Regions from separate parts of the Homo sapiens genome. Here region 1 is linked to region 2. The links come from fine-mapping of genetic effects on gene expression. Tissue or cell type: neutrophils. Region 2 holds a variant in brackets; the other region holds the start of a gene. All regions are shown on one strand. Distances are from middle to middle.

Region 1 (5,144 bases), 320 kb after region 2:
TCGATCACTGCTCTTCTCCTGGCTTCCCGGATGCAGGGGTTTTTTTCAAGACTTACCTCATCCAACTGTCCAATTAAACCCTGCAATTCTGTTTTGGAGCTCAGGTACAATTCAGAAGGGTTTTGTGCTTGGAGAAGTTCATTTTTTATTTCTCTCATTCTCTTGAGGACCTTTTCTATTTTTAAAATGGAATGATTCTGTCTCAGGTCAAATGCTTTAGTTGTGTCTGCTTCCTCTTCCAAATCCAGATATTTCAATAATTTGTTGATATCTTCTACTACCTCCCTCCGATAATTTCTGATTTCTGTCCGGCCGCACACATCTAGAGCATCCAGGTCAGCGATCAGCCCCGAGAGCACACAGGATAAGTGCCTGCAGGTCTCATTGTTGTTCACACCCATCAGAAGTGCAATCAGGACCCCTCGGGCCTTGTTCACCTCACACATCACGAAGTTGATTTTGGCAACGGAAGGATGTGCATCCTCGGAAAGCGGCAGGGAAGGCTGCTTTTTCATGCAGTCTTCGATTATCTCTTGCACCGCACAGATTTTGGTTAAAGTGTGATACCTTGCTTTCCGCAAGGAGATTTTTCCTCCAGTTTTAACATGTGTCAGCCTCAGAATGATATCTTGGATGCCTTCTTCAAACTCATCAGTTACGCAGTTGCCTCCATTATAAAATGGCACAATTTTCTCTCTCACGAGGGACTGGGCTTCCTCAAAAATGTTCTGTATTTCAATCCGGTGTGGGTGGTTTGCATTCTGCTCCAACTCTTTGAGAAGACGTTCTGTCTCCTGTGCTGCCCGCTTCCTAGCTTGCTGAATATCTCCTTTTCCTTCAGTATCTACAGAGTCTATTTCAAAAAGCTGTTTTGTTAGAATCCTCTCCAGTTTCTTGTAATTCTTGTCATCTGACAGACCACTGAAGCCGATAACTTGCTGTTCTACACTTTTTACTTCCTTTTGGATTTCCTGAAGCCTACTAATAGAAGGATGTTGGTTTCCCATATCCATACTTTTGTTGTGTTCAGTTTCACAAGCACTAAAAGACGACAAGAATGATAACTTACTACAGCACAAGGCTTCTGCAGAACACTAATGGTATATTAAGTCATTCTAAAATTCTCATTTTAAAAAGGTATACTTCTGAGCAGTCATCCCACCTCAGCCTCCCCAGTAGCTGGGTCTACAGTCGTACACCACTACGCCCAGCTAATGTTATTTTTAGTAGAGACAGGTCTCACTATATTGCCCAGGCTGGTCTCAGACGATCCGCCCGCCTCCGCCTCCCAAAGTGCTGGGATTAAGGTGTGAGTCACCGTACGCGACACAAACTATTTGGAACCAGCAGGGCACCTTTATGAAAGGTGAAACAGTAGCTCTTGTAACCTTCCGAACACTAACAGTACCCCGCCCCGCCACACAGCTATGCCTAGTTTCCAGAAACTCTAAGCAAAAGAAAGAACCAGAACAAAAACCAGTGGCTCTCAGACATCCCCAAGGTCCCCGCTTCTTCGTTTCTCTCCATCCCTTTGTGCACTTCCCCTCCCCACCCTTTTAGCTCCTCACACATCTTCCCTCACAGAAGTCTCCCTGAAGAGATTAAAACCCCACAGGTAAAGAAGAGCGACCGGGACAGCGCTGAAGGGCACCACCTTGGGCTTTCGAGGCCCAACACCTCCTCAGCCCCCAACATGCTCCACTCTCTCAAAAAAAAACAACCCGCGAAAACGTGGTAACTATGAATAATTCATTCACTCGCCTCCCACTGGGAGTCCACAATGGCCTAATGCACGTTTCAAGCTCTTGGTTTCTATCAAACGGCTCGCTCAAGGTGGGTAACCAATGGAAACGCATAATCTATCCCCGGCGGATGTCCTGGAGGCCACGGAGGGAAGGCGGCCCGAGCTGCTTCCTCCCCGCCTCGCCCTTCCCTCTTGGCCCTTTACCCAAAAGAAGTCTGAATTGGATGCGGTCTTGGCGTCCCGTGGCTGAGGTGGCGAGGTGGAAGATCAGCCCTTTACGGGGTGCGGCACCGGAGCTGGGCCCCCAGCTGCATGCCTCGCACCCCTCCCGACTAGGTCTGAGCGGGGCAGCCGGTGAAGGGGCCGCTACTGGCTGCAGCAGCCGCTCCGGGCGTCTTGGCCCGGGTGCCAGGGCGCGCCTGCAGGACGTGACCTCACAATGGGCGCGCGAGGGGAGCTCGGCCCGGCCGGGGGAAGCCGGGGGAGGAGGGGAACCGAGGCCCGGCCGGAGACACCAGAGACCAGGCCCGGCCAGCCCCGGTCGCTTCCGACCCCAGGGGCGGGGACAGCGCCGAGACCGACTCTGCCCTGCCTGATCCGACAGGCCGCACGGGGCTGGGCGCTGGCGAAGGGGTGGCCCAGCGGGGAGCCCCGCGCGGAGGTGGTGCCCCACTCGTCCCCCCGAGAGAGGGAAAAGGCTACAAGCCGCGCTTCGCTCACCTGTCCCGCCCGCGCCATCGCGCGATGCGTCGCCGACGCTTCCACGACTTCCGCAGCTCCGGCAGTCGCCCGGGCCCGGCAGCCCCGCCCCTGGCCGAACACCCCTAAACCCGGGGACACCTCCTCCGGCGTCCGCGCCTAGCCGCCGGCAGCGCCACGCCCACCGCCAGCGGCGCAGCGAGGCAGCCTGGAGTGACCGCGACCAAGGAGCGGCCGCCCGGGTCAGCCCGCGCCGCCCGCCGCCCCCTCACCCCGTCGCACCGCTGGGAAAGCGCACGGTCGGCCGCGCCGCCGCGCTTCCTCGGGCTTCGCGACCCTGCCGTAAAGCGGCCCCTCGCGCCGTCGCAATGCTGCCGTGCGCCGCGGGAGCCAGGGGGCGTGGGGCCATGGTGGTCTTGCGGGCGGGGAAGAAGACCTTTCTCCCCCCTCTCTGCCGCGCCTTCGCCTGCCGCGGCTGTCAACTCGCTCCGGAGCGCGGCGCCGAGCGCAGGGATACGGCGCCCAGCGGGGTAAGCAGGGGCCTGGGGACATTGGGCCGGGAGGGGTGACCGGAAGGGAAGACAAACCCGGGCCTCGGGGCCACTCCCTGTTCTGCACAGCCGCCTCAGGCCTTTGTCCAGGTGCTCTCGCGTCCTATCCCGAACAGTCCCGCAGCCCCGAGGCTCCCGCATCAACGCCCTCAGTCGGATGGGACTGAGGGTGCCGCCGCCACCACGCCGGGGACTGTTGACAGCCAGAACCTTTAAGCGTAACAGAGTCACCTGGCAAGTTTGTACCTACCTTATTTGTTCCCGAGAATGATTATTTTTTATTTTTAAAGAGCTCTTGGCTTACCGTGCGTTTTTTTTCGTTGTGTGTGTGTGTGTTTTGGCTTTGTTACAATTATTAGTGCTTTTCTTCAAGCGGCGAGCACTTTATCATCGTACTTTTGTAGCACTTCACGTTGAATAGTTGTTATTTGCAAACTATGTGTGGGTATATGCATGTTACTGGCCAAAGATCCGCAAAGAATGTCTGTAGCAAGAATGTCTGTGGCAAGCAATTTTTATAAGTGGTACTTTTGGGAGGGATGTTTTGTTTAAGGGAGGCCTAGGCCTTGATTCCGTCTGTCAGATGAAAATGTTGACTAACGGTGTGGAATGGGCTGGAGATAAAATATTCAAGCAAAGCATGCAAATACCAAACAGGCTAATGAAGGAGGCTGGAAAACTTGGTTTAAACAATAATTAAAGAAGTATTAAAAAAGTGTTAATTAAAAATTGGACGGGCTCCGTGGCTCACGCTTGTAATCCCAGCACTTTGGGAGGCCGAGGCAAGCGGATCACGAAATCAAGAGGTGAGACCATCCTGCCCAACATGGTGAAACGTCTCTGCTAAAAATACAGAAATTAGCTGGGCATAGTGGCGCGCGCCTGTAGACCCAGCTACTCGGGAGGATGAGGCAGGAAAATCGCTTGAACCCGGGAGACGGAGGTTGCTGTGAGTCGAGATCGCGCCACTGCACTCCAGCCTGGCGACAGAGGGAGACTTCATCTCAAAAAAAAAAAAGCTAATTAAAAATTGCAAATGTACTTGCTTGTACATTTTCATTTCTGTTGGGCTGTGGCTGTTAGTACACTTTCATAATTGTAGCTTTGAAGGTCTATCTAGTTTACAATTTAAACAAGGAGTTACCAGGGCAACTTGCCAACCAGACACCCAAGTGGCTAGCTCAGTTCTGTGTTACAGTGACCAAGTCCTTGCCTTCTATCCCTAGAACATAGAAACCCACCCAGCATCTCTATCTTTGGGCAGAAAGATAGAGCAGGTGTCTGAAAATGCTCTAAGAGAGCAAACGGGAAATCAACCAAGACATTTCCCGGGCGGGGGGGATTTTCCCTAGCTTATTTTGTGAACTTGTGCTGGAAAGAAACAACAGCACCCAAATAAGGATTTCTCTATTGTCATATACACTTCTTTTTTTTTTTTTTTTTTTTTTTTTTGAGTTGGAGTCTCCCTCTGTCGCCCAGGTGGGAGTACAGTGGCGTGATCTCAGCTCACTGCAACCTCTGCCTCCCGGGCTCAAGCGATTCTCGTGCCTCAGCCTTCCGAGTAGCTGGGACTACAGGGGCCCACCACCATGCCCGGCTAATTTTTTTGTATTTTTAGTAGAGACAGGGTTTCACCTGTTGGCCAGGCTGGTTTCAAACTCCTGACCTCAAGTGATGCGCCTGCCTGGGCCTCCCAAAGTGCTAGGATTACAAGTGTGAGCCACCACTCTCAGCCTTAGACTTCTTGTTAAAGTAAAATAAATCTTACCATGGGTCTGTTCTCAAGATGAGAGACCTCTCTGCCTTGTTCGTTTTTTCTTTTTTCGAGATGGAGTTTTTGCTCTGTTGCCCAGGCTGGAGTGCAATGGCGCAGTCTCGGCTCACTGCAACCTTTGCCTACTGGGTTCAAGCAATTCTCCTGCCGCAGCCTCCTGAGTATAGCTGGGATCACAGGCGCATGCTGCCACGCCTGGTTAATTTTTTTTTCTTTTTTTAGTAGAGATGGGGTTTCACTATGCTGGCCAGGCAGGTCTCGAACTCCTGACTTCAGGTGATCCACCCGCCTTGGCCTCCCAAAGTGCTGAGATTATAAGTGTGAGCCACCATGCCCAGCCAGCACCAGCTTTTAATTGAAAAATATTATAGAACTT
Region 2 (5,144 bases):
GATTCATTGTCAGTCCACACATAGGGACAAGTTACTGTGCCCTCATTAGAAAGCCATTTGCTAAGTGGGAACTCCGGGGAGGCCAGGCCTGAAGGAGAGTTTGCCGTCAGTCATTTCGATCAGGGATCAGGGCAGAGACCACTGTCATGGGTAGAGCTGTCCCGCCATTCCCCAGGAGGAAGGCAGGGCTGATGGCAGGGGTGGGGTGGGCAGTGGTGCTTAAAAAGAGGAGAGGCCCCAGGGGTGGGCAGTCTCTTTGCTATAGATTTCCTTGCTGTCAGCCCCAAGCACTTAGCAATTCTTGCTGTCGGATTCTCATTTGCTCTCATCTGTGCTACAGGAAATCAGTGTCTTGAGCCAGATGGGGTGGCCTGAGCCTCGGGCCCCTCACAGCATCCAAGGGCAAAGTCTCAGCAGAGCCATTGCCTAAAGATGTTAAGATTATTAAATGAAAGCACAACATGCCTGCAGAAACGTATACGAATCATCAACCTACAGCTGGAAACATTTTTACAAAGCAAGCCCACCCACGGAATCAACACCTGTGACACCGCTTCCCACCCCTTCCCAACTTCCCCCACCAAGGTAACGGCTGTGTTTCACGTCTTCTAACTCCATGAATCGGTTTTACCCATTCTTGAACTTTATTGCATCAACATAAAGGAAGAAACTGAGGCAAAATTAACATAAATAGAGAGTTTATTTGGGCCACGTTTGAGGACTGAAGCCCAGGAGACATAGACTCAAGTTACCCTGGCGATAAGCTCCAACAAGCAGCAGATGCAAATGGATTTTTAAAGGAAAATTGAAGGAGCAGTTTGGTCGTTTACCAGGAATGTACATTGGTTCTTTAAAATGGCATCAGTGCCTTTTGGCCAGAACCGCCATCTTCCAGGAATTCGCCAAAATGATGAATGCAAAGGGAAAGAGGAGAGGCACCCGGTACATGTTCTCCAGGCGTTTTGGAAAACATGGAGTTGTTCCTCTGGCCACGTATATGTGAATCTATAAGAAAGGTGACACTGTAGACATCAAGAGAATGGGAACTGTTCAAAAAGGAAGCCCCGCAAGTGTCACCATGGCAAAGCTGGAAGAGTCTACAGTGTTCCCCAGCATGCTGTTGGCATTGCTGTAGACAAACAAGTTAAGGGCAAGATTCCTGCCAAGAGAATTAATGAGCGTATTGAGCACATTAAGCCCTCTATGAGCCGAGATAGCTTCCTGAAACGCGTGAAGGAAAATGATCAGAAAGAGACAGAAGCCACAGAGAAAGGTACCTGGATTCAACTAAGCTCCAGGCTGCTCCACCCAGAGAAGCACACTTTGTGAGAACCAACGGGAAGGAGCCTGAACTGCTGGAACCTATTCCCTATGGATTCATGGCATAATAGGTGTTAATAAAATAAAAGACCTCTGGACTATAAAAATGTTTCTCTTCATTGAGAAGTGTGGTGCCCCCTCCCCCAAAGAACTATTTAAAGTAAATTTTAGTTGTGTCCTAATTCATTATGTAATGTCTTCACCATTCAAACGTAATGCATTTCCTGCTGAAAGACGTGAGGTAGCTTACTGTGCAACAAATTACTCAATGAGTTAGAAAATGGCCAGGTATTATGTATGAAATATTTGTACTGGTTTGAAGATAGTCCCTCTAAATCATCAAGGAAGAAATAAAATAATTTACAACAAAAAGCTTCAGTTATTGATTGGCTGAACGTTGTTGTTTGTATCACACATTTCAGAAACATGAAGATAATGGGCGAGGACTAAGCTCTGATTTTTTATCTTGCCCAAATTCCTTTCTAAGGGGTCTGGGGAGTCATGCGCTACAAAGCAGAAATTCTCATCAGATGGGTTTTATTTAACTCTGTATATCGTGACTTACTTTCCAACCTGACTCTGGCATAACAACGAAAAAAAATCAAAATATTTTACCCCAAAATACATTTCCTTGCCATACTTTGAAATTGTCCTGCAAAGTCTCTTGTGGGAAAAATCCAGATTCTATTGGAATCCCCTTTCCCCTTTGTTTTCCTTCCTTTCTTTTCAGATCCAGGAGATAATCAACTAGAGCCAGGTACACTTTTAGGTCTGATAAGAAACATTTTACAACCTGCTCTCTCTGAAGTCTGCTATCTGAGAACTTCCTCTGCACAGTAAAACTTGGTCTCCACAATCCTTCATCTTAACCTGAACATTTCCTTTCCGTTAATCCCAGGTCTTCAGATAAACTCAACCAATTGTAAACCAGAAAATGTTTAAACTTACCTACAGCCTGGAAGCTCCCGCTTTGAGAGTTGTCCCAGTTTTCTGAACCAAACCGTTGTATTTCTTTCTTTCTTTTTTTTTTTTTTCGTTTTAAGGAGTGGAGAGTTTAATAGGCAAGAAGGGGCAAGAAGGATGGGAGAAGGAAGAAGCTCCCCTGTACAGAAACAGAGGGATGGGGGGCTCCAAAGCCAAGAGAGGGAACCTCCAAACCCATATATTTCATATATATATATATATATTTT[T/A]TTTTTTTTTTTGAGATGGGGTCTCACAATGTCACCCAGGCTGGAGTGCAATGGCATGATCTCGGCTCACTGTAACCTCCGCCTCCTGGGTTCAAGCAATTCTCCTGCCTCAGCCTCCCGAGTAGCTGAAATTACAGGCACCCACCACCACGCCCAGCTAATTTTTTGTATTTTTAGTAGAGATGGTTTCACTATGTTGGTCAGGCTGATCTTGAACTCCTGACCTTGTGATCCACCCGCCTCAGCCTCCCAAAGTGCTGGGATTACAGGCATGAGCCACTGTGCCAGTCCCTCTTAAATATATTTGATTGATGTCTAATGTCTCCCTAAAAATATATAAAACCAAGCTATATGTGCCCCGACCACCTTGTGCACATGTTCTCAGGACCTCCTGAGGGCTATGCTATGGGCCATGGTCACTCATATTTGGCTTAGAATAAACCCTGTAACATATTTCACAGAATTTGACTCTTTTCATTGACATGGATAAGGATCACATTGTACAATTTGTGGTAACTTTTAGGAAGTCTAGACAGTCAGCTAGCCTGGAAACTACAGGGAAGGAAAGAAAAAGCCTTTGAACAGTGAACCCTAGGCACAGCTGCTGGCATCATTGTTCTCTGGGCCTGATAAGTTTGCAGGTCTCACATTCCTCAGGCTGCTCTGAGCCACTTCTCTTTCTTATTTCCTCCTTTGGATCAAGATCTTGCTCTCTGAAAGTATTGATGATCAATATTTTATTTTATTTTATTTATTTTTTGGAAACAAATGCTCGGTGCCTCAAAGAAGAACCAGCACTGAGACTAAGGATCTCTCAGCAAGGCAAATTTACTTCGGCAGAAGGGTATGTGCATCTCACATGTGAAGTAATGGCAAAAGCACACAGAACAAAGGAAAGCAGGGGTTTTTATTATGTCTAACACAGCTTCTGCTTCTGTGTCTTTCCCCTATTGGCTAGGGTTGGACCACACAGTCTAAACTAGTCCCAGTTGGCTAAACATTTAAACTTTCTTAGATAAGGTAGGCACGTAAGGGAGGTGAGAAGGGAGAGAAGGGGGGTCATTTACGGAGGGACTAGGAGGGTAACCTATTCCCTAATAAGGAAAGAAATGTGGACTGGGGTTGTAGCAAGTTCAGGCATGCCTAGGCATATTCAGACAAGCTGCGGTGCAGCACAGGCAAGGGGGTATTTGGAATTGTAGGATAGAGAATGAGGAAACTGGATAAGCTGTTTGAAGAGGAAACCTAACTGCATCTAACATTTTATTTATTTATTGAGACAGAGTCTCACTCTGTTGCCCAGGCTTGAGTGCAGTGGTGTGATCTTTGCTCACTGCAACCTGTTTCCAGGGTGCAAGCAATTCTAATGTCTCAGCCTCCGGAGCAGCTAGGACTACAGGCATATGCCACCATGCCTGACTAATTTTTGTATTTTTGGTAGAGATAGGGTTTCAACATGTTGCCTAGGCTGGCCTTGAACTAACTCCTGGCCTCAAGTGATCCACCCTCCTTGGCCTCCCAACATGCTGGGATTATAGGCGTGAGCCCCTGCACCTAGCTGATCAACATTTTAAGTGTAAATTTGCCCAGCATCACTGGGAAGGCTCATTCCCATGGGGGGGGGGGGGGTAAGAGGAGAGGTGCTCTGGCTCATGAACTCGGTGAGGTCTCCAGGCAGAAGATATTGGCAGCACAACGGGACAGAGCAGCGGGATCCCAGGCCGCCTGCTTGGAGAGAAGCTGTGGTGTCGCGGATCATTCCTAAGTGTTCTAGCTATCATGATTTTCGTTTTTATTCTTGACTTTAGACATCTAGAAATACAAAGCCTAATCAAGTGAAGAATAAAAAATATGATGCAAATAAAATCCCAATCTGGAAAGCATTCCTATTCCTAAAGGTAATCAATCATGTAAATCACGTGAGGGGTCTGTTTTTCTACCATCTTGCAGCCATTTTGCCTTTTTTTTTTTTTTTTTTTTTTGAGACAGAGCATCACTCTGTTGCTCAGGCTGGAGTGCACTGGCGTGATCTCAGCTCACTGCAACCTCTGCCTCCTGGGCTCTAGTGATACTCCTGCCTCAGCCTCCCAAGTTGCTGGGATTACAGATGTGTACCACCATACTTGGCAAATTTTTTTTATTTTTTATTTTTTTTTATTTTTAGTAGAGATGGTGTTTCGCCATTTTGGCCAGGCTGGTCTCGAACACCTGACCTCAAGGGATCCACCAGCCTTGGCCTCCCAAAGTGCTGGGATTACAGGTGTGAGCCACCGCACCCAGCCCATTTAACTTTTTGAGTGATTTCTAATTAATTTCCCACTTCTCGTCCTGGTCTGAAGAATAAGGTAACTGGCTGCAGATCAGCTTCAGCTGGGGATCTCCAGGTGGAAGGTACCCATGCATGCAGGACTGCCTTTTTATTTATTTTTTTTAATTTTACGTTAAGTTCTGGGATACACATGCAGAACGTGCAGGTTTGTCGCATAGTATACATGTGCCGTGGTGGTTTGCTGCACCTATCAACCCAGCATCTAGGTTTTAAGCCCCACATGTATTAGGTATTTGTCCTAGTGCTCTCCCTCCCCTTGCCCTTTACCCCCTAACAGGGCCACGGTGTGTGTTTTTCCCCTCCCT

Direction of the effects. Alleles are on the strand shown, and positions count from the first base shown. SD is a standard deviation of normalised expression in the study named.
In carriers of allele T in region 2, the expression in neutrophils of the gene that starts at base 2,809 in region 1 tends to be higher than with A alone (large effect, 1.7 SD a copy in BLUEPRINT).

What was found. PIP is the estimated chance that this variant, and not a neighbour inherited with it, causes the effect.
Region 1: it holds the start of COA8, and the variant in region 2 is fine-mapped to the expression of COA8 in neutrophils (BLUEPRINT, PIP 0.95).

What each region holds. Positions count from the first base shown.
Region 1 is chr14:103,560,152-103,565,295 of GRCh38, forward strand. COA8 (cytochrome c oxidase assembly factor 8) reads left to right here and starts at 2,809. Exons shown (of 5, transcript NM_001370595.2): 1 at 2,809-2,973. The coding sequence starts at 2,851. BAG5 (BAG cochaperone 5) reads right to left here and starts at 2,506. Exons shown (of 2, transcript NM_001015048.3): 1 at 2,465-2,506; 2 at 1-1,041. The coding sequence starts at 1,013. RefSeq lists enhancers at 1,111-1,624, 1,724-1,773 and a silencer at 2,114-2,763.
Region 2 is chr14:103,240,585-103,245,728 of GRCh38, forward strand. It overlaps the pseudogene RPL21P13. Among named protein-coding and RNA genes, the nearest start is that of LINC00605, 54 kb to the left of the region's middle. RefSeq lists an enhancer at 2,975-4,174. The variant T/A (reference allele first, on the strand shown) is at 2,511.